Linked DNA regions of Homo sapiens. The protein of the gene in region 1 purifies or fractionates together with the protein of each later gene. This does not show direct contact. Each region holds a gene or a part of one and is shown in the gene's direction. Other genes may lie near its edges. The genes, in order: ARPC4-TTLL3 and ARPC2.

Region 1 (15,576 bases):
GTGAGACTCCATCTCAAAAAAAAAAAGAATGTGAAAGGGGGGACAGGAGGGACATCAGGCATTCTTGGCAAAGGACACCTCCCAGGCAAATATATGGTGATAGATGTGAGCAACTCAGACCTTGCAAGCGGGGCCAAGGCTCTGAGCGCAGATCCAGTCAGAGTCTTTCTGAACTGTCTGGGTGTGTGGTGAGTGTGGGCAGTCCTGCCCTGCCCTCTCAGTGGCTAACTCCGTAGGTGGGTCTATGTCTCAATCTCCGGAATTTGCCGTGGTTTGATGAGGTTGATGCCAACTCCTTCTTCCCACGCTGCTACTGCCTGGGGGCTGAGGATGACAAAAAAGCCTTCATAGGTAAGGAGACCCCCAGCCCTATGCCTGAACCTCAGGCTGACAGAGCAGGGCTGAAGCTCTGGCTCATATTGGAGAGAAACAGGCCTCTCTTCATGCCCTCATCTGCCTGCCCCAGCAGATTTCCCTTTCCACCCTCAATCCTTATCCTTCCCTAATGTGCCCTCCCTTAATAAGCCTCTTAGCTTGGTCAACTCTGACCTCCAGAAAAGCTTGGGTAGCTTGGCTTATATTCTAGAGCAGGTTCTAAAAGTTGGTCAGTCCCTTGAGTTTGGAATCCAGAACAGATTCCAGGCTTATATCAAGTTCCATTTGTTGAATTGGGTTCCAAAAAAGGCTGCAGGCTTTGGATTTCTAAGGCAGACTAGGTTCCGATTCCACAATATGTTCTAAATTCAGGTTAGAATTTGGATCCAGATTCTATGCTAGATTTAAATTACATTCAGAATCTGAACTAGGACACAGTCTGGTTCTCAGGACAGAATAAGTATCAAAAGTAGGTGATGAACAGAAGAAACAAATCAGACAATGGGTCCAAGCCAGATTCTGAAGGCAGAATATGATCCAAGTCAGGTCAGATTTGGGGTCTGGTTACACAACTGAAACAGGAGCAAGTTCTTTTTTTTTTTTGAGACGGAGTCTCGCTCTGTCACCCAGGCTGGGGTGCAGTGGCGCGATCTTGGCTCACTGCAAGCTCCGCCTCCCAGGTTCCCGCCATTCTCCTGCCTCAGCCTCCCGAGTAGCTGGGACTACAGGCGCCCGCCATCACGCCTGGCTAATTTTTTGTATTTTTAGTAGAGACGGGGTTTCACTGTGTTAGCCAGGATGGTCTCGATCTCCTGACCTCATGATCCATCCACCTCAGCCTCCCAAAGTGCTGGGATTACAGGCGTCAGCCACCGTGACCAGCCTGAAACAGGAGCAAGTTCTAAACTCAGGCTCTAGAGTCAGAAAAGGTAGAGTCAGGTTCTGGATCCAAAATGGGGCAAGTCATGATCAGGTTCTGGAACCAGAACAGGCCTCAAGCCTAGGGGCTGAGCAGGGTATCCCCTGGCCTGGGAGCAGAGGACTTCTGGCTGACTGCTGCCCGCAACGTTCTCAAGCTGGTGGTGAAGTCTGAGTGGAAGTCATACCCTATTCAGGCAGTAGAGGAAGAGGCCTCAGGTAAGTACTGTGGTTACCTCCACTCTCCCACCCATTTATCCTCCACCCATCCGCCCTTCCACCTATCTGCCCTTCTACCTATCTATTCATCCACGCACCTACTGGTTCATCCACACATCTGTGTATGATTCACATCTACCCATCTATCCATCCATCCACCAGCCATCCATCCACTCATCCACCCACGTATTCACCCACTCTCTGATCTACCGATTCACCCACCCACCCTTCCACTCATCCTTCCATCCTCCCACCTGTCACCCATTGTTAATCTCGTCATTCATCTACCTGATGTCAGCTCCATACTCCCCATCCATCTATCCACTCCCTGCCTACCTATCCTTCCACAGATCCACCTACCCATCTATCTACCTGCTATTCCATTCTCCCATCTACTACCTATCTGTTCTTCAGGCCATCCACTCATCCATTCTTCTGTCCCAGGTACTTAGACACTTGTCTTCCCATCCGTTTGTTAGTTGATCCACTCCTCATTCAGCCCTCCCATGGGCCTGGCATGTAGCCGAGCACCCTGGAGAGGGCAGACTAAGAAGACATGGTCCGTCCCTGCCTGTGAGGAGTTCAGGTCTCTGAGGAGGAGGAAGCAGTGAAACTGGGCTTTACACATGGCCTGAGAACAGCTTAGGCCTGAACATAAGGAACAGCTTGGAGTGGAGGGGACACAGAGGAACCCTCACTATCATGCATGCCAACCCAACCACTGCCTGCCCTTTCCCTTCTGGATTTAGCTCGTGTCTCCAGGCTCCTAGTCCTGTAATCCAGGGACCCATCAGCGAGGGATTCAGGGAAGCAGAGGCAGCTCTCCAGGAAGGAGGAAAATCCCTGCCTCTTCCAGAGAGACTCCCCCATTGCTGTCTCTTGTGTGTGTCATGCACAAGGAAGGCTTGGTTGTGTGCCAGGATAAGGGGCACAAGGGCCTCGGGTGTGGCCAGAGACCCCATGCTTAAGCTTTTATGGTATAGGTCAGGCTGCAGGGGTTTGAGGGCCTCAGTTGTATATCAGAATCTTCAGAGCACTGCGATGTTCAGGGGTGAGTCAGGTCTGTAGATGTGCACGGGGTCTTCTGAAGGGTCAGTTTCTGTAATCACTTTCAGGTGTGTCAGGGCCTTGTGCAGTAACAGTGCACACAGAAGTTAGTGTTTCTGTGGGCTAAGGGTTGTAGCTCTGTATCAGGATTCTGGGAGTGGGTCTGGATTTCTGGTGTGTGGACTTAAGAAGCTGTGTCAGACTTGGGGGAGGGGCGTTCATGTATAACTGGGTTCACATAGGCCAAGACTCCCAGGTGCATTTTAGGCAGAGCCTCAGGTGTGTTAGAGGTCCCAGGGGCAGAGAGGCTATAGGTGCTGTCAGAGGCCTTGGGGACATTTAGGGCAGAGCCTCGAGTGACAGGTCCTGGGACAGTGGGAGCCAAGGGCAAGTGCTAGAGTTGCAGTGAATTTAGAGCAAAGCCTCAGCTAAGTGACACATCCCAGGGCAGTAGGGGATCTATCTAGGTTCGTGCTGGGCCTCAGGTAAGTGACAGGCCTTAGGACAATGGGGGCTGTGGCATGCGTCAGGTTACCTGCCTTGATATGGGATCGTGACAGGCCCCTCCCTATGTGCAGGAGACAAGCAGCCCAAGAAACAGGAGAAAAACCCAGTGTTGGTGTCCCCAGAGTTTGTGGATGAAGCTCTGTGTGCGTGCGAGGAGTACCTTAGCAACTTGGCCCACATGGACATCGACAAGGACCTGGAGGCCCCGCTGTACCTCACCCCCGAGGGCTGGTCCCTCTTCCTCCAGCGCTACTACCAAGTGGTCCAGTGAGTCCCCTGCAGCTGGGACTTTGGGCTGTGGGCAGGTGCTTAGGGATAGACCCTTTCTGTCTCGTGCAGCCCCTACCCCTTCCCCAAGCCTCCCGCTCGTTTACCCCGCTGTTCTGCTCAGGAACCCTCGAGGACTCCCACTGCCTCCGTGATAGGGTCTGGGCCACTTTTCTTGGTTCTTGGCATAGCATAGTCACTAAGAGCATGGACTGTGCCACCAAATGGACAGCACATTACCCAAAGTGTGTGTTGTGTGGATGTTAATTCTACAGGAAGTAAATAGATTTTATGAAAAAAGGGCTTTTGTGGTCCATCACATTTGGAAAACACTGGATTAAGCAGTTAAAGAGGCTTCCCTGGGGCAGTACTCTTCAGAACCTGTGGGTGGTGTAAGCCTATAGAGAGAGTGCGCTGCTTATCCTGTACTTAAGTGAGCCCAGTGCCCTGCCTCCCACCAAGCATCCTGAGGGGCAGTGTTTTCTGAACACACTTTGGAAGAAGGTTCTTAGGTGGGGAAAGGGAGGATCAAGGTGAGCCTGGTGCTGCTTTAGGGAGATTCCATTCGGGAGAAGCATGCAGGAGCAACTGGAGGGAGAACAGCCCTGAAGGCAGAACACACAGTAAGCATTTCTTGAGCAACTCCGATGTGCCAAGCATTGTGCCAGGTTCTGAAATGAAGCGTAGCCCCTGTTCTCAACTGGGACACAGCTCAAGGTTTGAGACCTGCAGGAAGCCAGGTGGGAGTGCTAGGAATCTCAGCTGGGGTGGTGGTAATGGGAAGAAATGGATAGATTTAATTACTCAGTAGGGGAAACCGAAGAACTAATGAATGACATGAGCAGCAGATCCACATCATTAGCACGTAATTCACTGCATCTTTTCTAAATGCCAGGACATAACTCAGGTGGCCCGGTACTTTCTCTTTAGCTACTGGAAAATGTAAAGCTGCCCATTTTAAATTAAGAATTATCAAGGTGGCCAAGCGTGGTGGCTCACGCCTGTAATCCCAGCACTTTGGGAGGCTGAGGCGGGCAGATCACTTGAGGTCAGGAGTTCAAGACCAGCCTGGCCAATATGGCGAAACCCCATCTCTACTAAAAATATGAAAATTAGCTGGGCATGGTGGCGCACGCCTATAATCCCAGCTGCTCAGGAGGCTGAGACAGGAGAATCGCTTGAACCTGGGAGTCGGAGCTTGCAGTGAGCCGAGATCGCGCCACTGTACTCCAGCCTGGGTGACAGAATGAGACTCCGTCTCAAAAAAAAAAAAAAAAAGAATTTTCAAGACTTAGAACATTAGTCATGAAGCACGAGTCCCTTTTTTTTTTTTTTTTTTTTTGAGACAGAATCTTGTTCTGTTGCCCAGGCTGGAGTGCAGTGACGTGATCTCGGCTCACTGCAACCTCCACCTCCTGGGTTCATGCGATTCTCCTGCCTCAGCCTCCCGAGTAGCTGGGATTACAGGCGCCCACCACCACGCCCGGCTAATTTTTTGTGTATTTTTAGTAGAGATGGGGTTTCACTATGCAGGCCAGACTGGTATCGAACTCCTGACCTCGTGATCCGCCCTCCTCAGCCTCCCAAAGTGCTGGGATTACAGGCATGAGCCACCGCGCCCGGCCATGAGTCCTTTTTATTTCTGGTGTGTGGGGGCAAGTTCTGGAGGGCTATAAGAACCTCTCTAAAGTCGGGATTACATAAAACATTGCATCATATAACAGACATACACAGTGTTGAATGGTTCAGTACAAATGACCAGCATTCATTCATTCCCTCAATATTTTATTTTATTTTTTTGAGACAGGGTCTCACTTTGTTACCCAAGCTGGAGTGCAGTGGCGCAGTCTTGGCTCACTGCAACCTCTGCCTCCCAGGCTCAAGTGATTTTCCCACCTCAGCCTCCTGAGTAGCTAGGACTACAAGTGTGTGCCACCAGGCCTGGCAAATTTTTGTGTGATATACATATATCGTTGTATGTATATATTATGTATTATATATATTATAATATATATAATACATAATATATACATATATATATATATTTTTTAGAGACGTGGTTTCACCATGTTGGCCAGGCTGGTCTTGAACTCCTGAGCTCAAACAATCCGCCCGCCTTGGCCTCCCGAAGTGCTGGGATTAACAGAGTGAGCCACTGCACTCGGCCTAATTCATTCAATATTTAGTGTTAATGCTTCTCAACTTTTTAAAAAAAACAATTCCACTTGGGGCGGTGGCTTATGCCTATAATCCCAGCACTTTGGGAGGCCAAGGCTGGCGGATCATGAAGTCAGGAGTTCAAGACCAGCCTGGCCAATATGGTGAAACCCCATCTCTTCTAAAAATACAAAAATTAGCAGGGCCGGGCACGGTGGCTCACGCCTGTAATCCCAGCACTTTGGGAGGCCAAGGCGGGCAGATCATGAGATCAGGAGATCGAGACCATCCTGGCTAACATGGTGAAACCCCATCTCTACTAAAAATACAAAAAAATTAGCTGGGTGTGGTGGTGGGTGCCTGTAGTCCTAGCTACTCGGGAGGCTGAGGCAGGAGAATGGCGTGAACCCAGAAGGCGGAGCTTGCAGTGAGCCGAGATCGCGCCACTGCACTCCAGCCTGGGCAACAGAGCGAGACTGTCTCAAAGAAAAAACAAACAGCCAGTTTTTTTTTTTTTTTTTTTTTAAATCCTGGATTTTAAGAACTAAGCCAGCCAGGTTTTCATCAGGCTGACTTTTCATTAAAATACTGTTTTTTTTTTCTTTTTGCTAACTATAAAATCATATTGTCATGTCGAATATACTTTTTCAAATTACGCTCCTGTGTGATATTTTCCTGGGCCACATCACAGATTACTGAAAAGATACTTCATGCTACGGACCACAGAAAAGTTTGTCAGGACATAGGTGTGAGTACTCCTGGGAGACCTTGCCTAGCCCCCTGCATCTGGCTGTCCCTGTTCCTGGCACTGCCCCAGTGGCTGCTGCCTCCTCCTTAAAAAAGAGAAAGTTCTCCATGACTGGAGACACTCAAGATGCTAAGATGTCACAGAGTTAGCTTCCCCTGAACAGGAGGCTCCCGTCCTATTCAGTCAGAAGGAAAGAAATGCGAGAGTCTGGATGAGGCAGCCATCTGGGGTATTTTGTGACTTGGTTTAGTTCAGGACATTTTCTGTCTTGTAGAGAACAGGGTCCCTCTTTGTCCATGAAACCCTGTCCGTGCAGCCCAGTTGCTGAGGCAAGCTCCTACCAAAGTACTTGCTGAGCCAACCGTTCATTCATTGAGCAAACTTCCAGGGAGTACCTGCTGAGTGCCAGGTGTGGTGCTTGGGGATGGGGATTATAGCAGAGAACAACTACAGAAAATGTTCCTGCTCTTACGGAGTTTACATTGTAGTTAGGGGATTCAGACAATAACCAAATAAGCACATGTGTTAGGTGGGGGTAGATGATGGGAAGAAAACAAGCAAGAAGAGGTGTGATATAGAAGTGCTTGAAAGGAATTAGGCTAACATTGTTTCAGCCAATATTAGGCACAGATTAAGACAGGAATGAACCCCAAAAAGCACCTGTGGGTGGAGGAATCAGACAGGACAGAGTTTGAATCCTGGCTGAACCACTCAACTTTCAGTGTATGGCCTTCGGTAAGTCCCTTAACTCTCAAAGCTTCAGTTTACTCTTTTTGTTTTTTGAGATGGAGCCTCGCTCCGTTGCCCACACTGGAGTGCAATGGCGCGATCTCGGCTCACTACAACCTCCGCCTCCTGGCTTGAAGTGATTCTCCTGCCTCAACCTCCTGAGTAGCTGGGATTACAGGTGCCCACCACCACACCCGGCTAATTTTTGTATTTTTAGGAGAGATGGGGTTTCACCATATTGGCCAGGATGGTCTCAATCTCTTAACCTTGTGATCCGCCCACCTTGCCCTCCCAAAGTGCTGGGATTACAAGCGTGAGCCACTATGCCCGTCCCAGTTTACTTTTTCTTTTCTTTTCTTTTCTTTTTTTTTTTTTTTTTTTTTGAGACGGAATCTTGCTCTGTCGCCCAGGCTGGAGTGCAGTGGTACGATCTCGGCTCACTGCAACCTCCGCCTCCCTGGTTCAAGTGATTGTCCTGCCTCAGTCTCCCAAGTAGCTGGGATTACAGGCACCTGCCACCATGCCTGGCTAATTTTTGTATTTTTAGTAGAAACAAGGTTTTGCCATGTTGGCCAGGCTGTTCTCGAACTCCTGACCTCAGGTGATCCGCCTGCCTCCGCCTCCCAAAGTGCTGGGATTACAGGCAGGAGCCACCGTGCCTGGCCCAGTTTACATTTCTCTAAAATGGGACCAGAGCTGGGTGTGGTAGCTCATGCCTGCAATCCCAGCATTTTGGGAGGCTGAACAGGAGGATGGCCTGAGGCCAGGAGTTCAAGACTAGCCTGGGTAACATAATAAGACCCATCTCTGCAAAAAATAAAAATTAGCTTGGGTGTGGTGGCGTATGCCTGTAATTCCAACTACTTGGGAGGCTGAAACTTGGACCTAGGAGTTCCTGGCTGCACTGAGCCGTGATTTCACCACTGCACTTCAGCCTGGGTGACAGACCAAGACCCTGTCTCAAAAAAAAAAAAAAAAAGTCGGGGGGTAGGGGGTGGGTACTAGTAATACTTCCCTGGCAGGGCCTTGAGGGCATTCGTGAAAATATATGGAAAGCCCTTGTCACAATGCCTGGCACATAGTGGTGCTTTATCATTAGGAACTGGAATGATTAAATTCTGTCAAAGACAGTTTTAATGTAATAGGAAGGGGGTGGCACAGGTGGAGTGTTGGAGTAGGGGGTGGTTTGCAGTTAATGGAATTTTATCAGCCTTTCCCATTTGTGTAGTCTGGGCAGGTTAGGATTTCCGGGGTGGCTTGAAGGTGGGGCCGGAGGCTTGGGAGGGACCTATGGATATCTGCAGGGAGGGCGTGACCAAGGCTGCCTGGATGACGGCGGGGGATGGTGGAATATATCTCCCCCTGCCCTCTCCACCTGCATGTCCCAGGTCCAGCCCTGCCCAAGTTCTATCATTTCCCCACAGCGAAGGGGCAGAACTCAGGCACCTCGACACTCAGGTCCAGCGCTGTGAGGACATCCTGCAGCAGCTGCAGGCCGTGGTACCCCAGATAGACATGGAAGGGGATCGCAACATCTGGATCGTGAAGCCAGGAGCCAAGTCCCGCGGACGAGGTGGGGGTCAGCTCCTGCTTCCTGCACTGGCACCTCACCACCTGCATCTACCAGTAGAGGCCAAGGAAGTTAATAGTGCAGGTCTATTGAAGCCAAATTGCCTGGGTTTGAGTCCTAGCTCTGCTACTAATGTGCTTCGTGACCTTGAGCAGGTTTTAGCGCCTCCCTGAACCTCAGTTCCCTCATCTGTGACATGAGGAGGATGATAATACCTCCTGTGAGGTGAGGATTAAATGCAGTCATGCAGCTAAAGCACTATTCCAAATCCTCAACGTGCTTCAATTTATGCAATCCTGGGAAACGGAGGCACGTGTAGGCTTTCACATGATCCAGAAGGATATCCATAAGGTCCTGGAAGCAGCAGTTGGCTGCCTCTAGACAAGGAGATACATTTTTTATTGTATGCCCTTTCGTACTGCCTAATTTTTGTTTTGTTTTATAGTCTATTTATTATTGGTAGGAACGTAATAGGTGCACATACTTTAAAAAAGCCCCCAACACTGGCCAGGTACAGTGGCTCATGCTTGTAATCCCAGCAGTCTGGGAGGCCGAGGCGGGTGGATCACTTGAGGTCAGGAGTTGGAGACCAGCCTGGCCAACATGGTGAAACCCTGTCTCTACTAAAAATACAAAAATTGGCCACGTGTGGTGGCAGGCACCCATAATCCCAGCTACTCGGGAGGCTGAGGCAGGAGAATCACTTGAACCCGGGAGGCGGAGGTTGCAGTGAGCTGAGCTCGTGCCACTGCACTCCAGCCTAGGTGACAGGGCTGTCTCAAAAAAAAAAAAAAAAAAAAAAAGTCCAGCACTTTAAATTTGTATCCATGTATGTATTCCTGTTTAATCAAACAAAACTGGTTAATTAGGAAAAATTTAAAATCCTTAGCAAATTCCTGGCTTTCCCAAAGGGAACTGGGTTCTGATTGAGGGAGACAGCCTTACCCACTCAGCCCTATCAGCTCCGAGGGGACAAGAGCTCATGACAAGCTGGCCCTTCTCCTGGCCCACGCCTGACCTTCCAATCCCTGACTGCCCTCTTCCCCCGTAGGCATCATGTGCATGGACCACCTGGAGGAGATGCTGAAGCTGGTGAACGGCAACCCCGTGGTGATGAAGGACGGCAAGTGGGTGGTGCAGAAGTATATTGAGCGGCCCCTCCTCATCTTTGGCACCAAGTTTGACCTCAGACAGTGGTTCCTGGTAACTGACTGGAACCCACTTACCGTGTGGTTCTACCGCGACAGCTATATCCGCTTTTCCACGCAGCCCTTCTCCCTGAAGAACCTGGACAAGTGAGCCCCTCTGCTCGCCTCCCACGAGCTCCCTGCCTAGTTGGGGAGCTGGCAAGCAAACAGGCGATTACAGTGCAGGGGACTCGCGCAGCAGCGCTAGGCTCCACACACAGACTGCAGGCAGGCAGGCCCTCATCCTGCCAGCTGTCCTTGCATCCAACAGATTTTTTTTTAACAGACAGGGGGCGGTCTCACTCTGTTACCTAGGCTGGAGTGCAGTGGCATGGTCACGGCTCACTGTAGCCTTGACTTCCTGTGCTCAAGCAATCCTTCCTCCTCAGCCTCCCAAGTGTCTGAGACCACAGGCATGTACCACAGCTGATTTTTAAGTTTTTTAATGTAGACATGGGGTCTCACTATGTTGCCCAGGTTGGTCTCAAACTCCTGGGCTCAAGCGATCATCCCACCTTGGCTTCCCAAAGTGCTGGGATTACACTATGCCTGGCCCCTCCAACAGATTTGACCGAGTGTGTACCTTGTGCCATGCACTGTTCTGGGCACTTGGGGTATAGCAGTGAACAAAACAAGATCCCAGCTCTCAAGGGCTTACATTCTAGCAGGGAGAAACAGGCAAGCAAGAACACAAGTGAAATTATCTAACAGGTTAAAAGATTATTTGGGCCAGGCGCAGTGGCTCATGCCTGTAATCCAAGCACTTTGGGAGGCCGAGGTGGGTGGATCACCTGAGGTCAGGAGTTCGAGACCAGCCTGACCAATATAGCGAAACCCCGTCTCTACTAAAAATATAAAAATTAGCCGGGCGTGTTGGCGGGCGCCAGTAGTCCCAGCTACTCGGGAGGCCGTGACAGGAGAATTGCTTGAACCTGGGAGGTGGAGGTTGCAGTGAACTGAGATCGTGCCATTGCACTCCAGCCTGGGTGACAGATCAAGGATCTGTCTCAAAAAAAAAAAAAAAAAAAAAGATTATATTTGTCGTTGGGGGAAAAAGGGAAGCAAATGTAGAGCAGGGGAAAGGAGGTCAGGAGTTTTGAAAACTAAGATGTCGTGTTAACTTCTAGGGTGAGAGAAAGCCTTGTTAAAGCCTGAATTCCAATTCTGTCTCTGCAGCTTCCAAGTTGTTTGAATCTGGTCATGTGAAAACCTATTTAAGCCTTGGTTTCCACATCTGAAGAATGGAGGCAGTAGTATGAAATTCATAGCTATCAATTATTGAGTGCTTCATATGTGATAGTGCTGAGCACTTTGTATACATGATCTCATTCTTAATAAGAACCCAGTGCATACTTCTTGTTCACCAGGTCTGAAGAAAAATATAAAAAACAGTGAAGTGGGTACTGTTACTACCCCCATTTTGCAGATGTGAAGAGCACACAGGTTAGATGACTTCCCTAAGGTCTCACAACTAGTGTGGAGATGGCGCTTGAACACGTCCTGGCGATGACGGGGCCATACCCTTACCCACCCTCTTATCTTCCAGACACTGGGATGGTTAACTGAGACTATGCACAAAGCACTTACTACTGCGGCCCCCGTAACTAGCGCCCTCAGAGCAGCCCTGAGAGATAAGAGTGGTTCTGGCCCTAGAAGAATGTGGTGGGGCCCAGGCCTCTGTCCTTTTTGTCCTTCCCAGTAGGGCCCCATCTCAAGTTGAATAGTGCAGGGTGGCCCAGGGCTGCTTCCAGGACTTGCCTGTCCTCCCTGAGTTTGGATGGGAGAGACACAAGGGCCTGGACCTCAGTTTTCTGTTCTCTGCCCCAGCTCAGTGCACCTGTGCAACAACTCCATCCAGAAGCACCTGGAGAACTCATGCCATCGGCATCCACTGCTTCCGCCAGACAACATGTGGTCTAGCCAGAGGTTCCAGGCCCACCTGCAGGAGATGGGTGCCCCAAATGCTTGGTCCACCATCATCGTGCCTGGCATGAAGGATGCTGTGATCCACGCACTTCAGACCTCCCAGGACACCGTGCAGTGTCGGAAGGCCAGCTTTGAGCTCTATGGCGCTGACTTCGTGTTCGGGGAGGACTTCCAGCCCTGGCTGATTGAGATCAACGCCAGCCCCACGATGGCACCCTCCACAGCAGTCACTGCCCGGCTCTGTGCTGGCGTGCAAGCTGACACCCTGCGCGTGGTCATTGACCGGATGCTGGACCGCAACTGTGACACAGGAGCCTTTGAGCTCATCTATAAGCAGGTGAGGAGGTTGGGCCCAGGCAGGACCCCAGAGAGTCTGCACCCTCTTCCAGGCAGCCCTGCAGTGGAGCATAGGACTCTGCAGTCAGACCCAGTTTAAGACCCAGATTCAAGTCCTGGTCCTGCTAAGGTGACCTCACTTCCTTGAGCCTCAGTTTCCTGATCTTTGAAATGGGGATATTATTACCATCTTTCTCATGGGAATGGGAGAATAAAATGAATTCATGTATGAGGATAATATTTCTAGAGAGGCATATAGCATAGCCATAAGAGCAGAGATTCTGGAATCTCCTTGGGTTCAAATTCCTGTTCAGTGACAACAAGCTATGTGACTTTGGACAAGTTCCTAACCCCTAGGTCTCCTTGTCCGTAAGAATAAAAATAGTACCTAACTCACAAAGTTAGGTACTATGAGTTGTGAGAATTAAATGAGTTGATAAGTAAAGTACTTCATTTATTTATTTTTGAGACAGAGTCTCGCTCTGTTGCCCAGGCTGGAGTGCAGTGGCATGATCTTGGCTCACTGCAACCTCTACCTCCTGGGTTCAAGCGATTCTCCTGCCTCAGCCTCCCAAGTAGTTGGGATTACAGGTGCCTACCACCACGCCTGGCTAATTTTTGTATTTTTAGTAGATACAGGGTTTTGCCATGTTGGCCAGGCTGGTCTCGAGCTCCTGACCTCAGGTGATCCGCCCACCTCGGCCTCCCAAAGTGCTGGGATTACAGGCAGAAGCCACCGTGCCCAGCCAGTAAAGTACTTTAGAATAGTGCCTGGCACGTAGTAAATGCTACTAAGTTTTAGCTAATGTTATTATTACCTAATAAGGTTAGGAGTTTCATCATGTATAACCTGTAAAGTGCCTGAATGTATAGTAATAGGCAATTACTGGTAGCTACTATTATTAGTAGTATTATAATTATTTCACTCGTCTTGCTCCAAAAAGAGATTGGAGTCTACTTGTAAAATAGAACAGCATTTTAAAAAATCAGTCAGAAAATTGATTGCAAGGCTTTCTGAGTTCTGGATAGAATTTCTTGTGGCAGTTTAAGTGGCTTCTGATTAGCCTCCGGTTTCTGTCAAGGTTTGGTTACAGGAAGAGAACGTACTGATCACATGACCTAAGTGACCTCGCCTTTGTTACAGTTGTTATTGATCATTTCTTAAATTAATATATTGGCGTTTTGGTTTCAAAAAATGTAAACGGGGAAATACATGGGCAGGAAAATATGAGCAAGCTGAGGGAAAAGGTGCCATTGTAGTGCAGTGCTCCCAATGCCAGTGCCCAGGCCAGAAGCATCTGAAAGCTTCTAAAGGTATGGATGTGAGGAGGCTCCACCCCCAGAGATTGACCCAAAATGTCTAGCTTGGGGAGGAGACTATGTATATCTGCATTTTTCAAATGCCCCCCAAATATCTTTTTTTTTTGAGACGGGGTCTTGCTCTGTTGCCTAGGCTGGAGTGCAGTGGCACCATCTCGGCTCACTGCAAGCTGCGCCTCCCGGGTTCAAGCGCTTTTCCTGCCTCCGCCCCCTGAGTAGCTGGGACTACAGGTGCCTGCCACCATGCCCGGCTAATTTTTTGTATTTTAGTAGAGATGGGGTTTCACCATGTTAGCCAGGATGGTCTCGATCTCCTGACCTCGTGATTTGCCCGCCTCGGCCTCCCAAAATGCTAGGATTACTGGCATGAGCCACCGCGCCAAGCCCTCTAAATGTCTTTTATTGCTGATTTGTTCTTGTTTTTGTTTTTAGGCCAGCACATAGTAAAGGCTTATACCTTGCACTGTTTTTTTTTGTCTCTTTTCATCTAGGCCAGCCCCAGTGCCTTTTGACCCCATAGTTTTGATCTTTTGAGGGGCCAGGCGGGTTGTTTTGTAGAACTGTCCCACATTCTGGATTTATCTGATTGTTTCCTTATGGTGTGATTTACCTTGGTCTTCTGTTAGCTGATTGTCTCAGGAACTAGAAGTTAGGTCAAATAGTTTGATGAGGTTAAACATTTTTCCCAAGAGCACTTCAGAGGTGATGCCGCGTACCTCATGTGGCATCACAAGGCACATCCTGTGAGAGTGTCTCACAGTTAGTGCTGCTGAGTTTGACTGTGGGTTACAGTGGTGGCTACCAGATTCTCTCCATTATAAGCTACATCTCCCCTTTGCAATTAATTTTTCTGTAAGGTGCTGTGTTGGCTCTGTCCAGATTACACATTTTCCTGTCATCCTTTCATCTAATTGTTTTGATACCAGTTTTGATTATTGCCTATTTTATTAGAGTTGCAAAATGGCAAATGTCTAATTCTGTTGTTCCTTCTGCATTTATTAGCTGAGATTCTTCTGTAAAGATGAACTTTCCCTCATCATCTGGGGCTACTTGGGAGTGCTGATAGCTACATTTTTATTTGATTTTTTTTTTTTTTTTTTTTTAGACAGAGTCTCACTCTGCCACCCAGGCTGGAGTGCAGTGGTGCTAGCTCGGCTCACTGCAACCTCCGCCTCCCGGATTCAAGTGATTCTCCTCAGATCCCGAGTAGCTGGGATTACAGGCGCCCACCATGGCCGGCTAATTTTTGTGTTTTTAGTAGAGATGGGGTTTCGCCATGTTGGCCAGGCTGGTCTCCAATTCCTGACCTCAGCTGATCCGCCTGTCTTGGCCTCCCAGAGAGCCACCGCGCCCGGCAATAGCTGCATTTTTTTTTTTTTTTTTTTTTTGAGACGGAGTTTCGCTCTTTTCACCCAGGCTGGAGTACAATGGTGCGATCTCGGCTCACTGCAACTTCTGTCTCCTGGGTTCAAGCAATTCTCCTGCCTCGACCTCCCGAGTAGCTGGGATTACAGGTGCCTGCCACCATGACCTGCTAATTTTTTTGTATTTTTAGTAGAGACAGGGTTTGGTTATGTTGGCCAGGCTGATCTCGAACTCTTGACCTCAAGTGATCTGCCAACCTTAGCCTCCCAAAGCTCTGGGATTACAGGTGTGACCACCATGCCCGGCCAATAGCTGTATTTTTAACAAGCTCCAAGTAATTCTGATGTTTAGATAGATTCTGATCAGGATCCTTCAGTGGCACAGAAGATACCTCCAACTGGCTCCAGGTTGCTAGCAAGGCACAGGGAGCTCTCCTGGAGCCCAGCTGAGGGCAGGACATACAGCTTGGCCTGATAGGAACTGAGAGTTGTAAGGGAGTCCCTCTCCTGGACCCTTCTCTCTGCCTTCCTCTGCATATTCGTTACTTCATTCTCTCCACAGACTGTCTTCTTTAAGGTTCTTAGTTTCTGCTACCCCATAACCTGGATTCACACGAGGCTCTAGGCAGGCTCCAAACCTCTTACTTGTCTGGGTGGCGTAACTCAAATTCTCTGTGCAGAGAATCTGATTGGCTCAGCTCAGGAAGCTGTCCACCAGCAGTGGCCTGTGCAGTGGAGCCACACGCATTCCAGCAGGGGCTGGGGGCAGCTTAGGAGGGAAATGTGGCTGAGGGGTGCTGGTGGGACATGGCTAGGATTCCCCCTTCCTCTGGGCTAGCAATTCCTGGAGCTCTGTGACTCTAGGTACTGACTCAGAGGTGGGCTTTCCATTTCTCAGCTCAGAAA
Region 2 (15,576 bases), on another chromosome or scaffold:
AGGAGGCTGAGGCAGGAGAATCGCTTGAACCCAGGAGATGGAGGTTGCAGTGAGCTGAGATTGCACCACTGCATTCCAGCCTGGACAACAGAGTAAGACTCCGTCTCAAAAAAAAAAAATCATAATTTTTAACATGAGTTTTCGAAAGGACATTCAAACCATAGCAGAAGGTATAAAAGGGGTTCTTGGTTTTTTGGGTTTTTTTTGTTGTTGTTTTCATTTAATTCAAAAACCTGGAAAGTAGCCAGCAGTAGGTTCTGGTTTGGGGGGAAAGACATGGAGAGTATACAACCTTCTGGACACCAGTATTAATAGCTAGCTAAGATTTCATTATTGACTGTCCTTTGCCTTAAGAGCTGGCTATGCACTGAGTAATTTTAAAGCATACAAGATCAGCAGACAAACAGATCAGTTCCCGAGAGTCCTGGTTTTTTCTCTTTATTCACCTGGGTTAGTGGCTCAGTCTGTACTTAGGTTGATAACTAACAATCTGTTCTCTCACTTGGAATTTGGCATCCTTTTGCTCTCTTGAAAACAAAACATGATTAAGTACAATGTAGGATCTGGAGGAGAACAGAGAACATATTAAGGGTGTAGTCAAGTCCTAAAAAAGGATGAGCTTTGATTAAAGATTCTCGGCCAGGCATAGTGGCTCATGCCTATAATCCCAGCACTTTGGGAGGACGAGGCGGGTGGATCATCCAAGGTCAGTAGTTCAAGATCAGCCTGACCAACATGGAGAAACCCCATCTCAACTAAAAATACAAAAAAAAATTAGCCGGGCATGGTGGCGCATGCCTATAATCCCAGCTACTTGGGAGGCTCAGGCAGGAGAATCACTTGAACCCAGGAGGCGGAGGTTGTGGTGAGCCGAGATCGCGCCATTGCACTCTGTCCCAGGCATAAAAAGATACTCATCTCAGTTTTGTGACTTGTTTGGTGACTAAATCCACTTCCCCTCTGTCTCTACTTTCCCATCCACCAAATGAAAGTTAGGAAGAATGCCAACTTAGGAAGAGCTTGGCAAGTGCAGTACTTTAAAAATAATGAAATTATCATGGCCTTTGGATTAACGTATTTGGTTTTGTTTTGTTTTTATTTTCTAGTTATTAAAGAGGGTGTACGGGAGTTTCTTGGTAAATCCAGAATCAGGTATGTAGTCATGTGAGCAACTATGGAATGACATGGGAAGAGAGGTGTCCTTTTTATATTATGCTTTTTTTACCCAAAGGATTTCGTTTAAATATTATTACAAATATTTCTGCATGAGCCCATTCCTAATTTCAACTCCGTCCATAAAAATAGCTTTTAAGGGGCTTTGCTTTGTCCAATATGGAACACAGTAGAGGTACAAAATTGATGTGTGACATTTTTAACATTTACTTGATGGGGCCACATGACTCTTACTTAATCTTTCAGCCAGAGGGCCACATTTGTTTGTTCATGGTGATTAAAATGGCTTTGAAAAGAATGAGCAAACATTGATTCCCACCCTCGGCCCTTAGTAATTCTGCATACTACATATTTGGAGAAAGAAGAGGAATATTCACCACACTATTCTTGTGATTTCAAGTAATAAAAATCAGACCCTTTCTTAATCCAGTCTTCTAATAGGTTGTCTCAACATTCATGGCCAGAGGAATTGAAAGGCACCGTGTCATCCTTGAATAGAACAGCTATGTTATACTGCTTTAAAAAGGAGGTTTAAAGTGGAAAAACTGAACAGCCTTTTTACCCTGTGATTCAGTGGCATGTCTCAAATTCTGAGGCATTTAGCAGGACCCCAAAGTGAGAACCAGGTAGTAAGACCATTGGAACATAATATTTTTTACTCAACTATTACAACTTTGGTACCTTGATTAGAAAAGTCTTCTAAGAAGGAAGTTCTCTGTCACTCTTAACAGCAGTTACTTGTGCTAGCTTATTTCATCACCTCACCTATTTTTTCAGACAGTCTCATTCTGTTGCCCAGGCTGGAATGCAGTGGTACAGTCATAGCTCACTGCAGCCTCCTCCAAATCTTGGGCTCAAGCAATCCTCCCGCTTTAGCCTCTCCGGTAGCTGGGAACTACAGGCACATGCCACCATACCCAATTAATTTTTTTAATATTTTGTAGAAACAGAGTCTCACTGTCTGCTGCCCATACTGCCAAAACAGAGTAAGGAGGTCTCAAACTCCTAGCCTTGAGCAATCTACCCACCTCAGCCTCCGCCTCCCAGAGAGTTGGGATCACAGGCATGAGCCACCATACCCAGCACCTTTTTTTTTTTTAATCTCCAAATTGGCGGGATGAATGTGTCACAGAAATAAAAGCCAAGATAACACTGTAGGCTTTTGGCAAAATCAAGGTATTAAAAGAAAGAAACAAACAGATCTAGAACAGAAAAATCATGTCCAAAGTCTTGGGCATGCTTGTCACAGCCAACATCCTGACATGGAAAGTTTATGTTTCTGTCCCTGGGCCTCCTTCTACCTCCCACTAAATCATAGACATTGCCAGATTGCAGACCCTGTCTTCATAGAAGTGTGAAATGTAAAAGTGTGTGAAAGTAGTGTCTCAACCAGGTGCAGTGGCTCACACCTGTAATCCCAGCACTTTGGGGAGGCCAAGGTGAGTGAATTGCTTGAGCTCAGAAGTTCAGGACCAGCCTGGGCAGCATAATGAGATACCTGTCTCTATAAAAAATACAGAAATTAGCCAGGCATGGTGGCAGCCACCTGTAATACCAGGTACTCAGGTGGCTGAAGCACGAGAATCGCTTGAACCCAGGAGGCAGAGGTTGCAGTGAGCTGAGATTGCGCCACTGCCCTCTAGCCTAGGCGACAGAGCAAGATTCAGTCTCGAGAAAAAAAAAAAAAAGACCGTAGAGTCTCTCCTCCTCTTTTTTAATGGGTTTATCTAGGCACGTTTGGAAAACTCAGCAAGTTATACTAGATTTTTACTTCTCTTCATCCTCAGTATATTCTGTTCATCATGTTAGAAGCCTTACTTAAAGACAGACTTTACCTTAGCTATAGTTTTATTTGCTCTTATTTGGCTTCCTAAAACTAGCAAACCTCAGCTCTAAATCTTTTCTTTTTTAATCTAACCTTGTAATCTGTGTGCTTATTTGGTTTTCAAGTACCCAAAATAGAATGATGATTGATATTATTTAATACTGGAGTGCCTCTCCAGTATTAAATAAAATGTGCTAAGCATTATCTAGAGCAAAGATTTAGCCCATCCTCCCGAAGAGCCCATGCTCAACAAAAAACACAGACCTCAGCCGGGCGCGGTGGCTTATGCCTGTAATCCCAGCACTATCGGAGGCCAGGGCGGGCGGATCACCTGCATTCAGGAGTTCAAGACCAGCATGACCAACATGGAGAAACCCCGTCTCTACTAAAAGTACAAAATTAGCCAGGCCTGGTGGCGCATGCCTGTAATCCCAGCTGCCTAGGAGGCTGAGGCAGGAGAATCGCTTGAACCTGGGAGGCGGATGTTGTGGTGAGCCGAGATCATGCCATTGCACTCCAGCCTGGGCAATAAGAGTAAAACTCCATCTCAAAAAAAAAAAAATACAGATCTCAGGAATGCTTTTGGGAAAAAATGAAATAGTAATGAGGTTTCAGATACTTAGAAGTGTGAAAGCCATACAGTTCTGGTGAAGTTATTCCCGTCAGTTGCCTAGAATATAAAATGATCCTCAGTGATGTAGAAATATTCTTGCAAAAACATCTCTAGGCAGTTTGACACTTATTAATCATTTGATTCTATAATCAAGTGTTCCAGCCGGCTTCTGGGAATTCATAGTGGACATGCTGTAAAAAGGCAGGTCATCCAATGGTTTCAGTCCATGTTCTGCACCCGTATTGATGACCTGTCATGTTCCACACACTTTAAGTATTGAACATTCTTTTAATGCTCACAACATTCTCCCCTATCTCCGCACCCCCTGCCCTGCTCCTTTTTCTTTTTTTCTTTTTTTTTGAGACAGAATTTCACTCTTGTTGCTCAGGCTGGAGTGCCGTGGCGCGATCTCAGCTCATTACAACCTCCACCTCCCGGGTTCAAGCAATTCTCCTGCCTCAGCCTCCGGAGTACCTGGGACCACAGGCGTGTACCACCACACCCAGCTAATTTTGTATTTTTATTAGAGACGGGGTTTTGCCATATTGGCCAGGCAGGTCTCGAACTCCTGACCTCAGGTGATCCACCCACCTTGGCCTCCCAAAGTGCTGGGAATACAGGCTTGAGCCACTGTGCCCAGACCACCCTACCTGCCCCCCACCACCAATTTTTTTTTTTTTTTAACAGATGAGGAAATTAACAAGTCAGGCAATTTTTTTTGTTTTTGTTTTTTTTTTTTGGAGCTGGAGTCTCGCTCTGTTGTGCAGTGGTGCAATATCAGCTCGCTGTAACCTCCACCTCCTGGGTTCAAGCAATTCTCCTGCCTCAGCCTCCCAAGTAGCTAGGATTACAGGCGCCCGCCACCATGCCTGGCTAATATTTGTGATTTTAGTAGAGACAGGGTTTTGCCATGTTGGCCAGACTGCTCTCAAAACTCCTGACCTCAGGTGATCTGCCCACCTTGGCCTCCCAAAATGCTGGGATTACAGGTGTGAGCCACCACACCCAGCAGTTTTTTTAAGGTCACAAAATGACAAGACTAGGATTTGGACCCAGTTCTGTTCGACTCAAAATAGAGTGCCCTACACTTATGTGTCATGCTGCATTTGGCAAGTCACGTCACTTCTTTGAATCTCCTTTTCCCTCTGCAAAACAGTAACCTTATCTAGCCTGCAGACTTCAAAGGTGGTTATGGAGATCAAATGAAGTAAAATGTTTTAAAAATTGTACAATATATACCAATAAAAGCTATTGGGGAGGTATATGTATGAACAGGTAGTTGGTTTTTCTACCCTGCCACCTCATAAAGAGTTTGCAGTGGCACGTAGAAGGGTTTATCTTATTATCACAAAGCTACCCATTTGCTGGCCATACTGATACTTGGCACATTAAACTATCAGAGAAATATATGTGGCTCCTTTACAACTGTGTCTAGAAGGGTACATTTCCAATCAGAGTTCCCAGGTTCTGACTTTCTCCCATTACATATTTGTAATTAGTCATCTTTGATACTGATTCAAATTTTTGATTAACATTAATTATATATATTTACAAGAATCTTATAAAAATTAAGATTTTATTTCACCTCATTTTGCCCTGTGAGATAGATGGAAATAGACTATATTCTACCCAGGTTAAAAGTACAGATAATGAGACAAAATGTCAATAGAACCTGAAAAAAGATTTTTTTAGTTGCCTCTAGTCTCTGTTTACTTGGTATAGATAGTATGCTGCTTTTTTTTTTTTTTTTTTTTTTAAATGTAACTGCTGGGTTGTTTTTTGTTTCTTGTTTTTTCTTTCCCTCCAGGATACAATGTCTCTTTGCTATATGACCTTGAAAATCTTCCGGCATCCAAGGATTCCATTGTGCATCAAGCTGGCATGTTGAAGCGAAATTGTTTTGCCTCTGTCTTTGAAAAATACTTCCAATTCCAAGAAGAGGGCAAGGAAGGAGAGAACAGGGCAGTTATCCATTATAGGGATGATGAGACCATGTGAGTATAGAATTTGGTCCTGAAGCCTGGATATGGCTGCTACACCACCATGGCACTTACTGAAAGAAATATGGCTTGGTCAAACTTTCAGCTGTATTGCGTGAAAATGTTTTTCTCATAAAATGTCTTAAGCCAGGAAGTAGATGATAGGGCAGAAATCAGCCACTCCTCCTACTCTCCAGATACTGAGAGCTGACAGATGGTGGAAAGAGAATCCAGTGCTTTCCTTTAAGGCACCACTGTTCTGAGTCATGTTTAAGAGTATAGCCTGGATAATCAGCAGGCAGGGTGACCATAGGTCCATGTTATATTTACAAGTCAATAAAATCTACTTCTGATAATTTCCATCTGCTGCCTCTCTTAGGGCATTCATTTTGTGCACTGACTTTGTTGACCATAAATATCATCTCATTTGGCACACCTTTATATTATGATTTAAGAGATTTATGACTTTAGCCTTCTGATGTACTTGTAGATCAAGTTATTGACAAAACCCCATTCTGATTCTGTACTTATCCTCATGGATTTTGTTCCTCTCAGGTATGTTGAGTCTAAAAAGGACAGAGTCACAGTAGTCTTCAGCACAGTGTTTAAGGATGACGACGATGTGGTCATTGGAAAGGTGTTCATGCAGGTATGGAGCAGACATCTTGGGGGAAACCCATGCATGGCGACTTATACCTTTGCACCCAAACATACCATGAGCGTAGGAAAGAGATCTAGCAACTCTACTGATGTTAGAATTTTTTTTTTTTTTTTCGAGACGGAGTTTCTCTCTTGTTGCCCAGGCTGGAGTGCAATGGAGTGATCTCGGCTCACTGCAACCTCCGCCTCCCAGGTTCAAGCAATTCTCCTGCCTCAACCTCCTGAGTAGCTGGGATTGTAGGCATGCACCACCACACCCAGCTAATTTTGTATTTTTAGTAGAGACGGGGTTTCTCCATGTTGGTCAGGCTGGTCTCAAACTGCCGACCTCAGGTGATGCCCATCTCGGCCTCCCAAAGTGCTGGTATTACAGGCATGAGCCACCATGCCCAGCCTTGACGTTAGAATTTGTTGAAGATTTAATAGACAACTCCCACAAAACTCAGTGAATATTTTTTGTTGCTGCTGCTGTTGTTTTGAGGTGGAGTCTTGCTCTGTCGCCAGGCTGGAGTGTAGTGGCACGAACTCAGCTCACTGCAACCTCCGCTTCCTGGGTTCAAGCAATTTTCCTGCCTCAGCCTCCCAAGTAGCTGGGATTACAGGCACGCGCCACCACGCCCAGCTAATTTTTGTACTTTTAGTAGAGATGGGGTTTCACCGTGTTGGCCAGGATGGTCTCAATCTCCTGACCTCATGATCCGCCCGCCTCAGCCTCCCAAAGTGCTGGGATTGCAGGCATGAGCCACCGCGCCCAGCCTGATATTTTTTTTCTCAGTGGTTTAGTTTTGCAGGACAGAACTAAAGGGTAAGTTGAGAATTAAACATACTAACTATGAATGAATGTTATGCATCCTTCCTACTGTGGGGTCTTTGACCTAAAACTTTGTCAGGTTTCCTAACCCTAACCTCTTGTGTTTCCTCAGATTTCTAGTAAGGTGGCTGCTCTTGGTTTGGTCCTAAGGTCTTTTCAGAATGGACTGTATAGCCAATTATTTGGTAGTAGATAACGCATGAACAGGTAGAGTTGTTGAACTGACAGACTGAGCCTGAGTTTGGATGGGTCACCATAGAGTACTTCCCTCACAAGAAGCTCATCTTAAGAAGAGTCATGAGAGGCCAGGCGCGGTGGCTGACGCCTGTAATCCCAGCACTGTGGGAGGCCGAGGTGGGCGGATCACGAGGTCAAGAGGTCAAGACCATCCTGGCCAACATGGTGAAACCCCGTCTCTACTAAAAAAATACAAAAAATTAGCCGGGTGTGGTGGCAGGCACCTGTAATCCCAGCCACTTGGGAGGCTGAGGCAGGAGAATCTCTTGAACCTGGGAGGCAGAGGTTGCAGTGAGCCAAGATTGCACCATTGCACTCCAGCCTGGGCAAAAAGAGCGAAACTCCGACTCAAAAAAAAAGAGAGTCCTGAGAGTTAGCAGGGCATTTTGTAATTGGATTTTTGGTGTAGTTGCATTCAGGTCATTGTGTACCAGTCTGCTGGCCAGTTAGTTGCTGCCTCTAGGATGGACATGAGAGTTCATTGGTCAAGTGACATTCAGGCTGGTTTCTTCTGAGATGGCTCAGCATTCAAAATCTAGTACAATGGTAAAATTTTTTGAAAACGTTACTACCTTCATTCTGTTCCTTGGCAGGGTGGTAAAGATTTTTAAATTCTGAAGCAGAATCTCTTTTGCCAAATAGAGTTGAAAGACAGCTGTGCTTAACAGTAAAGATACTTTGCATAGCCTTCTAAGTGGCTAGGAAAATCTTCAAAAGTGATATTCTCAACTGCTCCATCCCTAGTGGCTTTTGTATTTTGGCTAATTAATCAGAAACTAGTTTGGGAGTCACTATACAGAAAAATTGGAATATTGACACTTCAGCATTTGCTAGTGCTGAACTTGATGAAGGAATATATAAATATACATGTATCTCTTGGGTCCTAAAAGTAAGCCTCTAGAGAGGCATTTCATGTGTTTTTATGCAGAATTGACAGGGGAATTAAATGCAGTAGCTCAGAAATTGGGCTAAATCCAGAGTAACAAAACTAATTTTAAAAGCTCTGAAGTATATATTTAGATTTGGCTGGTTTTTTACCAATCTTATTCCATTTTATTCCAGGAAACAACTTATTTTTATACTTTAAACAGATCTTATCTTGGAGAGTGTACCGGAGATTTGTTCCTTAGGAGAATTTTGTGTATTCTTTTTTGGCATATGATTTAAATGCCTCCTTCAGGGTACCTGTGGTAGGGCACTTACCTAAAAGGAAAGACAAAGCCTCTTTTGCATTTTGGCACTAACAGGATCTCTGGATAGTAACTGGCCTGGTGCAGTGCTAGCTAGACTCAGGAAGTCATCTGCCCTGCCACCCTTTCCAAATTCAGAGGCTTAGGTAATTTGTTGGAAATGACAATCGGAAACTGGACTTTTGCTGGATTTTCCCAAAAAATAAATAGAACTTTTTCCTAGGCCTGGAATTGTAAATTTCTCGGAAAAAGAATGAGGGACACCTGGCACAGAAAGTTGTACCCTGAGAACACTATTTGAAGTTCCTCATGGTCACTAGTCTACTTGTTGCCAGCCTTTGTGGCCTTTCCCTTCCAGCATGCACATCCAGCCTGATCAGAATTCAAGTCTTGCTTTTGTCATTTGGCAAGCAGGCTCTGAGGGATGCTTTCTACCTCTCAGAAAAAGACAGGAAGTGTATTCCTCCACACTAGTGGTATGGGCATATCAGCTGAGTACTGGAGAATGTCTGATAGAAGCCATCATTTCAATGCTTATTCCATGAAAAGCAATAGGACCAGTAATTATGCTTTTGGAGATTAGCTTATGGTGAACTAGAATTCTTTTCATATTCTAAGATTTTAAAGTCAAGTTAGTAACTAAATAACCAGGAAAAGTTAAGTGGAAACCACTGGTTTTTATATGTTCAGGGACAAAGACACAAGCACCTGCCTCTTAGGCAGTTGTAAAGATGTATTTTGAGGGCCCTTTCTGCCTGTTTGCATGTGTGGGTATGTCTGTAGGATATTTTCCTGAACTGGGAACACTGAGTCCAAGTCAGTAATTTTGGTAGACATTGCCAAACTCTTCTCCATCAGGGTAGTGGCATTTTATCATCTACCAGTGATGGAGAGGAGTGCCTGTTTTCCCAGAGTATGTTGTAAACTTGTGGATTTCTCCTGATCTGATAGGTTAAAGGTGGTATCTGTGTCTGCTTATGATGACATAAAAAGATGTTCTGAGGTCAGAACATCTTTTCTTAATGTTATAGACCATTTGATTTTCTTATGAAGTGTCTCTTTATGTCCTTTACCCATTATTCTGTAGGGTCATTGAGCTTCTCAATTTCTTTACATACTAGGGAGAGTAGCCTTTCATCTGTGATTAAGAGTTGAAATATTTTCTCCAGTTTGTCATTGGACCGTGTTTTGTGGGGTTTTTTCCACCATGTGGAAGTTTGTTTTTACATAATCAAATTAATCAGTCTTGCCTTTTATGGCTTCTAGATTTTGAGTTATAGGTAGAAAGCCCTTCCCTACTCGAAGGTTATAAAGAAATTTACCTGTTATTTTCTGAGTATTTTTACAGTTACATATTTTATACATGATTTTTTCTTATTTGTTGAGAGCTCCTCTTGTTGTATGGTATGAAAGAATGATCTTTTTTTCCTAAATGGCTATCCAGTGGTCCCAGTGGCAATTATTTCCTTTTTTACACCCCTGATTTAAGATGCTACTTTTATCATATGCTAAATGCCTTGTATATATTTGGATTTATTCCGAACTTCCTATGATAAATAGTACTTTGGAAGAGAGAAATAATCTGATGCTCAAAAGACATCCTAGCCAGAAGGAGAGTAAAAAGGCAATATTGCTTGATTACGTATAACAAAGATGCCAATGAAGATGGAGGGCTGTTTGGGTGTGTTTGTTTGTTTAAGCTTTATTTAGGAGAGAGAACTGAGGAGAAGCAAAGACATCAGAGAATCTAAAGAATAGTCCCAGTCAGGCACAGTGGCTCACGCCTGTAATCCCAGCACTTTGCGGGGCCTAGGCAGGTGGATCACTAGAGGCCAGTTTGAGACCAGCCTGGCCAACATGGTGAAACCCTGTTTCTACTTTAAAGGCCAAAAATTAGCCGGGAATGATGGCACACGCCTGTAATCTCAGCTACTCGTGAGGCTGACACATGAAAATCACTTGAACCTAGGAGGTGGAGGTTGCAGTGAGCCAAGATCACGCCACTGCACTCCAGCCTGGGTGACAGAGTGAGACCCTGTCTCAAAAAAGAAAGAAAGAATAGGCCCAAGCCAGAAACGTATCGTTGACCGAGCCTTAAATATGTTATTTTCCATATACAAAACTAATGAGTGCTAATAAGTCACCACTGGTTTATAAATACCCCATCTCATTGTGAATACCACATGTACCTGTGAATTAGAGCCTTGGAGACACTTAACAGACACAAGAAAATGCCAACAGTTACGTATCTGTTCTGTTTAATTCCTTAATACCGAAAAGTAAAACCAGTAAAAGTTAAAAAGCTTCTTAACCCCTTTGTAGAATAAAAAATGTTTTCTAGAGAAGGGCGATTTTAGAAGCTTTGCTCTAGAAATTTCCATTTGGGATAATCTTGACTCCTTCCCTTCCTTTTTGGATATTTTTCCTTCGGGGAACAAAATCTGTTCAAAAGGGGACTAATCTAACCCAGTTGATGGTCATTTCTTTTCCTACTTAAAGCTTGGTAGTGTTAGCATGAGAGGCAGTTTGTGAAATAGGTGAGGTCCCAGGCTGGGCATTGGGGCTCCTCAGCCATCATCTTTCTTTTGCCACTAATTGTCGAGAGGGCTTGCTAATCAGTGTTTATTCTTCCTGCCTGCAACTGGAAACAGCCCTTGCCTATTCCTGTACAGTGTGATGATACTAAACCAGCTAGGGTAGAAGCACTTGCTTTCTCTCAGCAAGGCATGTGCTGCATAGCCTCTTTGAAAGACAGAAGAATAAATTACAAAGATAAATTAAGCAGGATCTTTGATTTGAACTCATAACCTGGTAGGGGAGCCAGATACATTAATGAATGGTAAAATATCATAGTAGAGGTTTGTAGAAAAGACATGGCAGCTCCAGCAAGAGAGCAGTACCTGCCTGGGTTTGTTGGAGATGGTATTAGGAGGCAGTATTTGAGCAGCAGTAGAAGGGCACGCAGGCCACATGGCTGTGTAACCATGCCTTCAGAACTCCTAAAACAAGAGACCTTGGAGAGTCCTTGGCAGCATCCTCCTGCTGTCTATCATCTTGGAAGGCCCACTTGATGAATTTGGATTATCCAGTTTTACTGGCATTGCTAGAAAATCTACTTCTGTTCTTGCAGATCTGGCTGAGAGAGAGAAGCCTTGTATTACTTGTCTATTTACATAGGAATGTATGGACTGTAGAAGCTTCAGGTTTGGAGATTGGAACATAGAAGGAAGGGCTTCCTTTATGAGCACCAAGACAACTCAGCTTCTTTCATTCCATTGTCTTCTGTCCGCAAGAAGAGCTTAAGTTTGCTCTAAAGATTTTATTGATGAATTCTAAATAGCAACAGGATCCTCAGTGAAAAAAGACTCATGCAAAGTCCCAGAGCCCAGAGAAAGTATGGTAGTTTATCACCTATGTTAGTGCAAAGGAAAAGGATTATCACTACTTTTCATCACATTTTGAAGATCTGACTTATTAAGTACTTTGCAGTCTCTCCCGTTTGAATCTGAAGTGTAGTGGTAGCAGCTAGCACTTGTCATATTTCAGGTTTGGTGTAGTTTATTTTTAACCTCCTGCTGGTCTGGAGGGCTACAAAGGTCACACCACATAGAACAAACCCTATAGCTTGAGTTGCCACTCATCTTACACCCACTTCTCTTCTGGTTGCTTTTGCTTTGTCTTGGCAGGAGTTCAAAGAAGGACGCAGAGCCAGCCACACAGCCCCACAGGTCCTCTTTAGCCACAGGGAACCTCCTCTGGAGCTGAAAGACACAGACGCCGCTGTGGGTGACAACATTGGCTACATTACCTTTGGTGAGCAGGGTGCACTTGCTGCTTTTGTGCCGCTTTAATGAGTTCACACAGCAGAATACCTAAATCTGCACAGAACCTTGGTTAACATTTTAAGGTAGGCAAACGCAGGCATACCAACTTGTTCCTGTTGCCATTGCAGTGACTAAAGGAGGGATGTCACAGGGTATTAATTACAGAGCAGGCCATATGCTATTTTTGTACAGTAATCCTTTCCTTTTTTTCCCCATTTTTCTTAAATCTTAAAAATAAGACTGAATTCTGATATCAAGAGTTAAGGTCCCTTCAATAGTTCAGCTGGTAGAGCAGAGGACTATAGCTACTTCCTCAGTAGGAGACGTCCTTAGGTTGCTGGTTCGATTCCAGCTTGAAGGAGACAAGTACAGTTTTGGCTGGGCACGGTGGTTCATGGCTGTAATCACAGCACTTTGGGAGGTTAAGGCAGGTGGATCACGAGGTCAGGAGATCAAGATCATCCTGGCCAATGTGGTGAAACTCTGTCTCTACTAAAATACAAAAAAAAATTAGCTGGGCATGGTGGCGCACGTCTGTAGTCCCAGGTACTCCAGAGGCTGAGGCAGGAGAATTGCTTGAACCCGGGAGGTGGAGGTTGTAATGAGCTGAGATCGTGCCACTGGACTCCAGCCTGGGCAACAGAACAAGACTCTTGTCTCCAAAAAAAAAAAAAAAGAGTTGAGGCTGGGTGCGGTGTCTCACGCCTGTAATCCTAGCACTGTGGGAGGCCAACATGGGCAGATCACCTGAGGTCAGGAGTTCGAGACCAGCCTGACCAACATGGTGAAACACTCCGTCTCTACCAAAAAAATAACAAAGAAATTAGCTGGGCGTGGTGGTGTGCGCCTGTAATCCCAGCTACTCGGGAGGCTGAGGCACAAGAATCCCTTGGACCCAGGAGGCGGAGGTTGCAGTGAGCTGAGATCACACCATTGCACTCCAGCCTGGATGACAGAGTGAGACCTTGTCTCAAAAAGAAAAAAGAAAAGAGTAAAGGATAGGCGGGGCACAGTGGCTCATACCTGTAATCCCAGCACTTTGGGAGTCCGAGGTTGGTGGGTCACTTGGGTCCAGGAGTTTGGGACCAGCCTGGATAACATGGTGCAGGCTCATCTCTACAAAAAGCAAGGGGCCAGGCACAGTGGCTCACACCTGTAATCCCAGCACTTTAAGAGGCCAAGGCGAGCAGATCACTTGAGGTCAGAAGTTCGAGACCAACCTGGCCAACATGGTGAAACCACACCTCTACTAAAAATACAAAAATTAGTTGGACATGGTGACATGTGCCTATAGTCTATAGTCCCAGCTACTCGGGCAAGCGAGGCATGGCAATTGCTTAAACCCAGAAAGTGGAGGTTGCAGCAAGCCGAGATCATCCTGCTGCGCTCCAGCCTGGGAGACTGTCTCAAAAAAAAAGATAACTAGGCATGGTGGTGCATGACTGTAGTCATAGCTACTTGAGAGGCTGAGGTGAGAGGATCACTTGAACCCAGGAGGTAGAGGCTGCAGTGAGCTGTGATGGCACCACTACACTCCAGCCTGGGTGGCAGAGTGAGACCCTATCTCACCAAAAAAAGGAGTTAAGAAGAGAACCACCTAAGCAGCTAGATGGGGGTTCTCTGTCATTTGGCAATTCTTGGTTTTTTGCTTATTAAGCCCAAGCTCCAGCCGTGATCCACTTACTCCACTTTTTCGCGGAATAAATTCAGGTCTTCCTTCAGTTGCTCCAGCCTCATGCACTGGCTGATTATGATAGCTTACAGTTTGGAATTAATAAGCTTGTTCACACTGCACCCAATGCCACTGGAATGTCTCCTTTGTGAAATGTAATTTAATTCACCTCAGTGGTAAAGGTGAACCTGTTTATTGGTGATGAATCTGTTGATTTACCAAATTTCATTAAATCTAAACTATACACTTTTTTCTTTTTTCTTTCTCTCTGTCACCCAGGCTGGAGTGCAGTGGTGTGATCTCGGCTCACTGCAACCTCTGCTTCCCAGGCTCAAACAATTCTCGTGCCTCAGCTTCCCAGGTAGCTGGGACCACAGGCGTGTGCCACCACACCCGGCTAATTTTTGTATTTTCAGTAGAAACAGGGTTTCCAGCTGGGCACGGTGGCTCACGCCTGTAATCCCAGCACTTTGGGAGGCCGAGGCAAGTGGATCACGATGTCAGGAGATCGAGACCATCCTGGCTAACACAGTGAAACCCCATCTCTACAAAAAATACAAAAACTTAGCTGGGCGTGGTGGTGGGTGCCTGTAGTCCCAGCTACCCTGAAGGCTGAGGCAGGAGAATGGCGTGAACCTGGGAGGCGGAGCTTGCAATAGGCCAAGATCACGCGACTGCACTCCAGCCTGGGCGACAGAACAAGACTCCGTCTCAAAAAAAATTAAAAAAAAAAAAAAGAAACAGGGTTTCCATGTTGGCCAGGCTGATCTCAACTCCTGGCCTCAAGCAATCCACTCACTTCAGCCTCCCAAAGTGCTGGGATTACAGGCGTGTGCCACTGCGCCCAGCCAGCTATACCATTTTTTTCAAGTTTTTGTCTTTGAAGCTGGGATGCATCTTACAATTCATAGCATGTCACACTTTAATTGGCAGCATGTTTCTCTTGTGGTACATAAAATTATGGCAGACTTACAGTCATAAGCACCTTAGATTCTTTGAAGTATAGTTGTCTTCTGTTGTGGTGTTCATTTACTTTCAGGCCAGGGCACATTGACACAGAAATTCCACACTTCCTTAGGAGGCATTCCTTTTCATTTCAACGAAAACTTCAGACAACTGACGGGGTTTTGCAGATAGTGAGTAGAGGAGGTGCAGCAGGTAAAAACGATTCCAGAAAACCAGGGCAAGAGGGGCATGCAGGCCTGCTGTAGTGCAAAGGACTTTGTGATGAGCACACAGGTCTTTTTTTGAGATGGAGTCTTGCTCTGTCACTCAGGCTGGAGTGCAGTGGCACCGTCTTGGCTCACTGCAACCTCCACCCCCCGGGTTTAAGCGATTCTCCTGCCTCAGCCTCCTAAGTAGCTGAGATTACAGGCACACGCCATCACATGTGGCTAATTTTTATATTTTTAGTAGAGATGGGGTTTCACCATGTTGGCCAGGCTGGTCTCAAAACTCCTGATCTCAGATGATCAGCCTGCGTCAGCCTCCCAAAGTGCTGGGATTACAGGCGTGAGCCATCGCGCCCAGCCTCACACAGGTCTTTAGGTGGCTGGTGTCACAGGGTGGACTTCAGTCAGGCCCATTCAGAG

The links.
Region 2: the proteins of ARPC4-TTLL3 (region 1) and ARPC2 purify together in Homo sapiens (affinity purification with mass spectrometry; 2 studies listed by BioGRID, with this or other methods). This does not show direct contact.

The regions. Positions count from the first base shown.
Region 1 is NC_000003.12:9,817,409-9,832,984, forward strand, and holds part of ARPC4-TTLL3 (ARPC4-TTLL3 fusion protein), read left to right. Parts: intron 1-236; coding exon 237-351; intron 352-1,146; exon of another isoform or gene 1,147-1,413; coding exon of another isoform or gene 1,414-1,512; intron 1,513-3,137; coding exon 3,138-3,333; intron 3,334-8,391; coding exon 8,392-8,540; intron 8,541-9,588; coding exon 9,589-9,832; intron 9,833-11,551; coding exon 11,552-11,987; intron 11,988-15,576. Other genes in the region: tubulin monoglycylase TTLL3, read left to right, coding at 237-351, 1,414-1,512, 3,138-3,333, 8,392-8,540, 9,589-9,832, 11,552-11,987.
Region 2 is NC_000002.12:218,233,246-218,248,821, forward strand, and holds part of ARPC2 (actin-related protein 2/3 complex subunit 2), read left to right. Parts: intron 1-1,106; coding exon 1,107-1,152; intron 1,153-5,418; coding exon 5,419-5,605; intron 5,606-6,145; coding exon 6,146-6,239; intron 6,240-12,174; coding exon 12,175-12,301; intron 12,302-12,580; exon of another isoform or gene 12,581-12,673; intron 12,674-15,576. UniProt on the Homo sapiens protein: Actin-binding component of the Arp2/3 complex, a multiprotein complex that mediates actin polymerization upon stimulation by nucleation-promoting factor (NPF).